2 linked regions of the Homo sapiens genome follow. The protein of the gene in region 2 interacts with the protein of the main gene of each other region in a pairwise test. Each region holds a gene or a part of one and is shown on either strand. Other genes may lie near its edges.

Evidence for each region.
Region 1: the proteins of ELF5 (region 2) and ACTR2 interact in a two-hybrid assay, tested with the Homo sapiens proteins (one large-scale study listed by BioGRID and IntAct).

Annotation. Positions count from the first base shown.
Region 1 is NC_000002.12:65,251,805-65,255,618, reverse strand, and holds part of ACTR2 (actin-related protein 2), read right to left. Parts: intron 1,892-3,814; coding exon 1,755-1,891; intron 75-1,754; coding exon 1-74. UniProt on the Homo sapiens protein: ATP-binding component of the Arp2/3 complex, a multiprotein complex that mediates actin polymerization upon stimulation by nucleation-promoting factor (NPF).
Region 2 is NC_000011.10:34,510,723-34,515,229, forward strand, and holds the start of ELF5 (ETS-related transcription factor Elf-5), read right to left. Parts: upstream 3,073-4,507; 5' UTR 2,955-3,072; intron 1,003-2,954; exon of another isoform or gene 848-1,002; coding exon of another isoform or gene 822-847; intron 1-821. UniProt on the Homo sapiens protein: Transcriptionally activator that may play a role in regulating the later stages of keratinocytes terminal differentiation. Isoform 2 binds to DNA sequences containing the consensus nucleotide core sequence GGA[AT].

The sequences.
Region 1 (3,814 bases), on a different chromosome or scaffold from region 2:
AGTTTTTCTTTAATCATGCGAACCGTTTCAAAATCAGCAGAGTGGTTGAAGGCGTATCCTCGCAACAGAAGTAGCTGGTACAAAACAATAGCAATAAGTTCATAATACATCTGAATGAGTTCTACTCTGCAAAAGCTAGTAATGCTCATTAAATATGTCACATCAATAACAAACAGAATGGGCAGTGGATCCTCAGCTCCTACTATTTCAGAAGCAGGATTTTATCCGCCATAAAAGGATTTATATTTCAGTTTCAGAGAGGGTAAAAGAATTAACAATTCATAAGTAAGTCAGTAAAATGACTAGAAAAGTCAGTTTTTGAAAAGCACTGCATGAGTACTAATGTTTTGATAGTTTTGATAAACAATCAAAAGTATATTAATGAATAAATATTATTTTAGTACTGGACTCCTGTAGCCTGCAGTTTGCTCACACAATTAATGCCATATTTATGAAATGCCCCCAAGTCTTTAAAAGTTTTATCTTTAGCTTCTAGTACTGTGTCTGGCACATATTAGAAGGACAATAGCATTTGTTTAACGAATGATAAGGGAATTATTGGGATACTCAAAGGTATAATCTCCATTGTTACATTTCTTAAATGCTAGAAAATACTACTATTTTTTTAAAAACCCACTGAGAGAAAAAAAATTACTAGACTTTACAAATAAAAAAAAAATCCTCTAATATTTGAGTCTGTGTTCTAAAGACAACCCCAGAAATTCTGTTAGTTACGCTTTGAATTTTGGCCTAAAATGAGAGTATTATAATTCTCATTAATTTAATCTCCCCTCATGAGGAGGATTACTTTAAATGAGACTGAAGGAACCCAATGTCAAGGTAAAGACAGTGCAACCCAATTTAATGCAGAGACAGGGTTTCTTAATAGCAGCACCACTGACAGACTATACATTGTTTGTTGTGCAGCCAGCCCTATTCATTATAGAATGTTCAGTAGCATTCCTGCCCAGCTCAGACAACCAAAAATGTGTCCAGAAATTGCTAATATCCCCCAGAGGACAGCACTGTCCCCTGGTGAGAACCACTGTCCTGGAGAGGATAGACTGATTATAGAATTGTGGTATAAACAATTTTCTAAATTTTATTTTAATATTAAAAATGATATATGTTAGCAAGTAGACACCTTATGTACTTTCTCCAGTAATGTTTTAAAGAAAATTATAACTAGTTATATTCAGAAATAAACTAAAATAGTAAATATTAAAAACTGCATCTATTCCATGAAAACTACTAAATATTAAAGTCTGGCGTATTTGGGCTGTTTTCCTCAAATATCATTAATTTGCTATCACTGTATTTTGTAGGAAAGGACAAGAGCAGACAACCCAACCAAGATCATGGCTTAAAACATACCTGCTCAAAGAAAGGTTTTATGGCAGAAAAGGCTGCCTGAGCTGTCCAAGAAAGTTTCAAATTAGGGGTCTCTTCTATCCTTGAAATATCTGTCTACTCACTCCTCAGGAATAACAAATATAATTATGTAATGATATAATGTACTCTCATTAGTATACAGAGATCATGTGTGTACACTTTTTTCCTTGTTTTTAATGTATCTTCTTTTTTCTTCATGTGTATAAATCTTATATGAATTTTTATATAAATAAGGGAGGTAATTGGATAATTTCTCTAGTGGTACAGATTTGCTGGAATCCTAAAACGATAGATTCAATTCTGTGTTAAGGTGGTAAACAAATTACAAAATTTAATTTCCATGATATTTTCCTTTCACTTACCTTGATAAGATATCTAGTTATATCCCTCCCAGCAATATCCAGTCTCCTGGTAAGATGAGGGAGAGAAAAGCCTTCATATACTGGGCAAATGTGAGTCACACCATCTCCAGAGTCTACCACTACACCAGTCAATAAACCTGCATAAAAGCCAGGGGGATTTAAATAAAAAGTCAAATCAGGAAAACCAAAGCCAGCGAGTTCCAAATACAGTAGGGAAGCCAAAACAGAAACGTAACCAACTAGAAGCCAGAATTTATTATTTAGTTATTTTGCAGTTTGTTTCTAATGCATAAGTATTAAAGCGAGTGTTCTCTTTTAAGACTTTTAGTCTACTATTATGTGCTGTCCAAGGAGATGAGAAGAAACAGACCCTGAGACTGAGGACTGAAAAACAGGACTTTTTTTTCCTTTTTTTTTTTGAGACAGGGTCTGGCTCTGTCACCCAGGCTGGAGGAGTACAGTGGCTCAATCTAGGCTCACTGCAATCTTCATTTCCTGGGTTCAAGTCATACCTCCCACCTTAGCCTCCTGAGCAGCTGGGACTACAGGCATGCACCACCATGCCTGGCTAATTTTTGTAATTTTTTTGTAGAGACAGAGTTTCGCCATGTTGCCCAAGCTGGTCTCGAACTCCTGGCCTCAAGTGATCTGTCTGCCTTGGCCTCTCAAACTGCTGGGGTTACAGGCGTGAGCCACCACACCCAGCAGAACACGTTCTTAAAGCTCTGTACAATTCTTTATTTTTTTCAACTTAGATAGTTTTGAATATACTACAAATAACATATACTGTGTGTTCTGGAAAAATGCCTATTGATACTAGACAGCTAGAAATCTAAGAAAAATTAAACATGGCTAGCCAAAGCATCACTTTGATTATTCACTGGAACTTATAATAAAAGGCAATGTCAGTTAAACCTCATAATAAAAGAACAGCAAAGAAGCTGCTTTGTTTCCCCTGTTTCCTCAACCTCCTGGGCTCAAGTGATCATCTCACCTCAGCCTCTCAAGTGGCTGGGATTATAGGCATGTGCAACCACACCCAGCTAATTTTACTTTTTATAGAGATAGGGATCTCACTATGTTGCCTAGGCTGGTCTCAAACTCTGGAGATACAGCAATTTGACCACCTTGGCTTCTCAAAGTGCTGGGATTACAGCCATGAGCCACCATACCTGGTCAAAAAAACTTTTTTTATTTATTTTTATTTACATATTTTTTTTGAGACAGAGTCTCACTCTGTCGCCCAGGCTGGAGTGCAATGGCACAATCTCAGCTCACTGCAACCTCTGCCTCCTGGGTTCAAGCGATTCTCCCGCCTCAGCCTCCCAAGTAGCTGGGATTACAGGCACATGCCACCATGCCCAGCTAATTTTTTGTATTTTTTTTTTAGTAGAGACGGGGTTTCACAGTGTTAGTCAGGATGGTCTCGATCTCCTGACCTCGTGATCCACCCACCTCGGCCTCCCAAAGTGCTGGGATTACAGGCGTGAGCCACCACACCCGGCCTAAAACTACCTCCTTTTTAAGTGGATATAATTCCTTGATGCAATAAGCCTCATAAAACTCATATACAGCCCTTGAATGTTGTACTCTTTTAAAAAGAAGAGGATTTCCATTGCAAAAAAGAAAAAAAAAAGGAGGAATTCACACCATCATCAATTCAAAAATACTCCCAGGAACACTGACTAATGCAAGAATTTACATTTTATTTCCCAAAGAGCCCTCCCTACCCACCTCACCTTATTTTCTACCACTTCCATCAGGTCACACACATACTGGCCTTTCTCCAAACACACTTGACCCATTTCCAGTGCCACACTCTTTTCCCACTGGATTATCCCCTGAAGTGCCTAAAAGACTCCTTGGCACATATCTGACAGGCCCAGACATTCTCAGTAAGTTCCTGTTGAATTTATAAGACCATAAAAAAAAAAAAGAGCTCTCCCAACGTGGCCAATATTTTATTTCCAATAAAGAGGGAGGCAGTTGCTAATGGCAATATCAAGAGAATATATAAGTAGTCCCCTCCATTAAACCCACCTCAAAAGTTAGAAATGCAC
Region 2 (4,507 bases):
TCCAAAGGTCTACAGTAGATGTATAGTTTATCTCTGGTACTCACATTTCTGGTGGGGAGATGATTAAGAAAAAATGACCTAAAAAGTGTCCTTAGGAGAAGTGATAAAAAAAAGGTGGAGAAGCGCTGTGATAGATCCACCTAGTGTCAGCGCCAGTACAGACAGGGATCTGCTGGGAGGTCTCTTGGCCTGCTGTTCTGGACATACTTTTCATTTTGTGAGGGACTAGCTGGCTCATCATGGAAGGAGCCCTGGGCCTGGAGTTATGATTCTGCCTCTTGCCCCTCTCCAAATCTCAGTTCTTCAACTACTAAACAAGAACACAGATAAAACAGCCCCCAAGGTCTGCCCTAACTCTGTGACTTTCTGCAGACACCCACCTGATTGAGCCAACACATCCAAACCTGGGCACTCACACACATATGCATACACATTGATTATATTTGCATTTTTTTGGTCAAGCAAGTCCACCAAATTGGAGGAAAATCCAACCACTACACACAGACTGAACTTTTAGTGCTGAAAAAGCTCCCTGATTTCCTCTTCTCCCTTTTCTCCTGTGCCCACTGCCTTCTACCCCAGTTGGAGGTAGATACCTCAGGACAACTGGATATTCTTTGCCCAGCCTAGCTGGGTACCTTAAACACTCTGGACCCTCACTCACTGCCCACCGATAGATCCGTGGAAGCTGGAATCAGTTTCCCCCAAATGTAGTCATCATTCTAGCTGCCTAGTAAGTAGGAAAAGCTCAAGAATGATTAACACAAGGTGGTGGAATCAGGTGGGCTCACTTCACACATGAGAAAGTTGGCTGCAGGTACCTGTGGGAGTGAGGCAGAGATGGCATGGAAGCTGAGGTCCCCAGATGCCTCCAGTGGCTTCTGAACCCTTCTCAGAGCTGGCTCACACACCAAATGCACACAGAGAGGGTCCACCGAGTTGGAGGGACAGGCCTGTGGGCTTCTCAGTGTCACACAAATCAGAGGCAGCAATAACAGGTGTGGCTCCCATGGCCTGAGCAACCCGGCACCCCTGCTCAGCCTCCCAGAGAGAGGGGAAGGAGCAAACCACTCAGCCTTGGCCAGTTTGCCAGAGGAGGAAAATTCCTTCCTGACTCTGGTGGTGATCATCAACTTCACTCTGGGCATGTGACCAAAAATTGGCCCAATTAAGCATCTACACATTGGCTGTTTACGGGCCAAATCATCACTGGGCAGAACTAGGCCATAGGGTGCAAAATATAGAAAAAAGTGGCCAAGATTGGGCTTCCTCAACCCCACCCTCTGAGTGGTATCATTGGGAAGAAAATCGGTTTTCCTTCCTTAAAGCCTCAGTGATACCCAAATGTCCACTCCGTCCCAAGACTTGTGAGCAAGGGAGGGTCAATTTCCCAGCCCTTGGACCTCCCTAAGAAGGGGCCCACTGAGGAGAACCCAGTGGAGTATTTCAACACTTACTGCTAAAGAAAGATTGAGGGTTGGGTGCTTGAGGGTTTGTTCTTCTGAGAGGAACCCTAGCAACTGTGAGAACCAATTTGCTGACCTCTTGTCAAGTGATTCCTCATTTTTCTTTAGCTCGCTTAGGGAGTTTGCGTGTTTGTTTGTTTGTAGCTGTTTTTCTGAAGGTGCAGCGAAGATCCAAAAAGGTATGCCATGTAGTTTGCTGTAGGCTTCGATGCAAAGCTTACCAGTTTTGGATTACATATATCAGGGGTTAAATCCTACCTCTGCTGCTGCGAACGTGGGGCACATTTCTTACTACCCAGACTGCTGAAATTCTTAAGCTTTTTTTCATATAGATGTGGTATATAAATATTCATGCCCCTCTTCGAACTACGGTTTCCTCATCTCTAAAATGGGGATTTTTTTTTTTTTAAATCATGCAATCCGATATATGCAAAGGACGGGGCATAATACATATATTCAATCCTGTTTTAGAGGGAAAAATCAGCCATCAACAATGTATCTAAAAATTTGCCACTCTGGTGACTTCTGAAAAAGGGAGATGACCAAACTGAAAACTCCGGCCCGAGAATACCTTAGATTATGAAAAACAGTATTGCAGAGAACACGAAGACAACAGAATCAAGCGTTCACTCGGATGGGCAAACCACCCCTTTCCCTGGGTCTCTGGACTAGACTGAACCACAGAGCTGCCTCCCTAAGTCATCTAGCCTTTCTGGCCTCAGTTTCCTCATCTGTAACATGAAGCGATTGCACCTAGTGATGTCTGACACACTTTCGGGCGTACAAAAGGCATCCACACGCAGGCCCGGCTTCAGCCTGAGGAGGGAGCTTGTGCTACCTGTCGCTGTCAGCAGGGGGCAACCCCACAGAAACCCCACACACTGCAGAGTCTGACAAGGCCTGAGAACACAGTGGAAAAACGCTAACCATTGCTTTTCTGGAAGCATTCTCTTCTGGGGAGATGTCAGAGGGCAAATGGGTTTCTTTTAAAACTGTTTTGTACAAATTCCTGAAAATGCCCCAAACTATAATAAGGGAGTTCTCTGTATCGAGGGGGTGGGGGACAGTGGGCAGGCCGGTGGGGAAAGGAATTCAGTCAGGGGAGAAGGGTAGGTGGGGGGCTTTCCTTGAAGCTGAATATTTTTCTGAGTAAAATCCAGCTTCCCTTCCTAAAGAAGCTTTAGGGAGGATAGAGAACTGAGCGCCTGGGCGCGTTCTCTTAATTCCCCTTGGTTCAGCTAAGGGATCCAGAGGGAGTGGTGGCTGTGAGGAGGGCTGGTGGCCACACGGCCTGCGGAGGCAAGCAGGTCTCTCTGAGGCAAGCCGTCACATCCGTGTCAAACAGCTCCCGGAGGCCCTGGGACTGCACCCAGCGCAGGTGCCGGCCCTGGAGCTGGAGATGGACGAGCAGACCCAGGCCCCAGGCCGAGCCTCTGAGCCCTGACACCCCTTACGATTCATCCAAAAAAGCAAAGAAAAGGCGCTTACGTGAGGGCAGCGGTGGCTAGGTCCAAAGAGGAGGCTTTCAAGGCAAGAGAAGGCAGGCGCTCCCAGCACCAGCGTGCAGTGGAAATAAAGACACCTGTAGCCTTGTGATATAAGTGACACCTACAGACAGGTCCGTTTGGTTTTTCAGGTTTACGCACAGCCCCTTTGATGACGGTGACATACAGTGTGACACGGCTCCTTGGAGGGGGGGAAATGGTTCTCATATGCAGAAAGTTTACCTTTATCCTGCTTTTGTGCGCAGCTCACCCCTGCCCTGCAACCCCCCACTCCCAGCCCAGGGGACTCAGTAAACAAGCAGAAAATTCTTGTCCCTGGGAGCTGTGCGGGGATCGTGCGTTTGGTGAGGAATTTTCCTCTGTGCAAGCTGGAGGGGAAACACAGAGATTCCACCCTGGTGCCGGTCTGCGCTGCCTCTCTCCCAGGCTGGCTGAGCCCAGTGCTTTTGTAAGATCATGTCTTTCTCCGTTTTTCCCATGTGGTGAGAAGGAAGAGCATTATAGGCCCAGTGTTAAGACCTCAGGTTTTGCAGCTAGTTGCCTTTAGATTCAAATTCAGTGTCCATCATTTCCTAGCTGTGCTACCTAGAAAAATGTAGCTAACATCTCTGGGCTTCATGAGTGTAATGTAAGTGATGGGGCCTCTCCTCATGTGGATGCCAGCTCTCAGGTGTCTCGCTGAGAACTGCCCGCTTTTTAGTACTTCTTCGTGACAACAGAAACTCTGCCTAATTTAGGCTGCAAAGCACAGTGTCCCAGGTCATCTATGAGACAGGTATTTATAACCCTGTGCCTTTTTGCATTCTGCTTCTAGCCATCTTGGGCAGCCGAGATGTTGTATTCAAATGGCAGACTCCAAGCTTTAAAGCGAAAGCAAGGACTGGTTTGTTATGTTTTCTTGGGATCACCGGGCATGGTTACAAACACACAAATACAAATACGCATATAGTCTGCAGAAACAAAAGGCAGTTCGTGAGAGGATTCGGGGTGTCATCATGGAAAAATTGTTGAAGGAAGATAGGTGACTGCCTAGACCCCTATCTTGGCTGGGTAACCTGGACTTCTCTGGGCTTCATTTTTCCCCAGTGGCAAAAGGAGGAAGTGGGATTGAAATAGTGATTTTTTTCAAACTGTGACTTGAGGAACCCCAGGGGCTCCCTGGAGCCCTTACAAGGACTTTTGCGGGTGAGAGGATGGGAGTGGAGTAGAGTGGGTTAGGCTCTAGACCACCCCGTTCCTTCCTGACTCAATAAGAGCATCTCAGCTTTTATATAAATCTTCCGGGTAAGATTTCATTTGAACAAAAGAATCTGCCCTTAGAAAGGGTTTGCAAGTAACTGGATTACATGGTCTTTGGGCCTCTTTCAAGCTTTAAAATTCTGTACTTCTCTTCCTCTTTGGTTTCTAGGGGACTGTGCACTGTGATAGTCCCACACACTGTGTTTTCCATTGTTGGGCACTGGCCTATCTTGTCATTGATTTCTGAAATGTTACCAGTGTTTCTTTCTGAACATATACATTCTTCTCAGTGGAGAG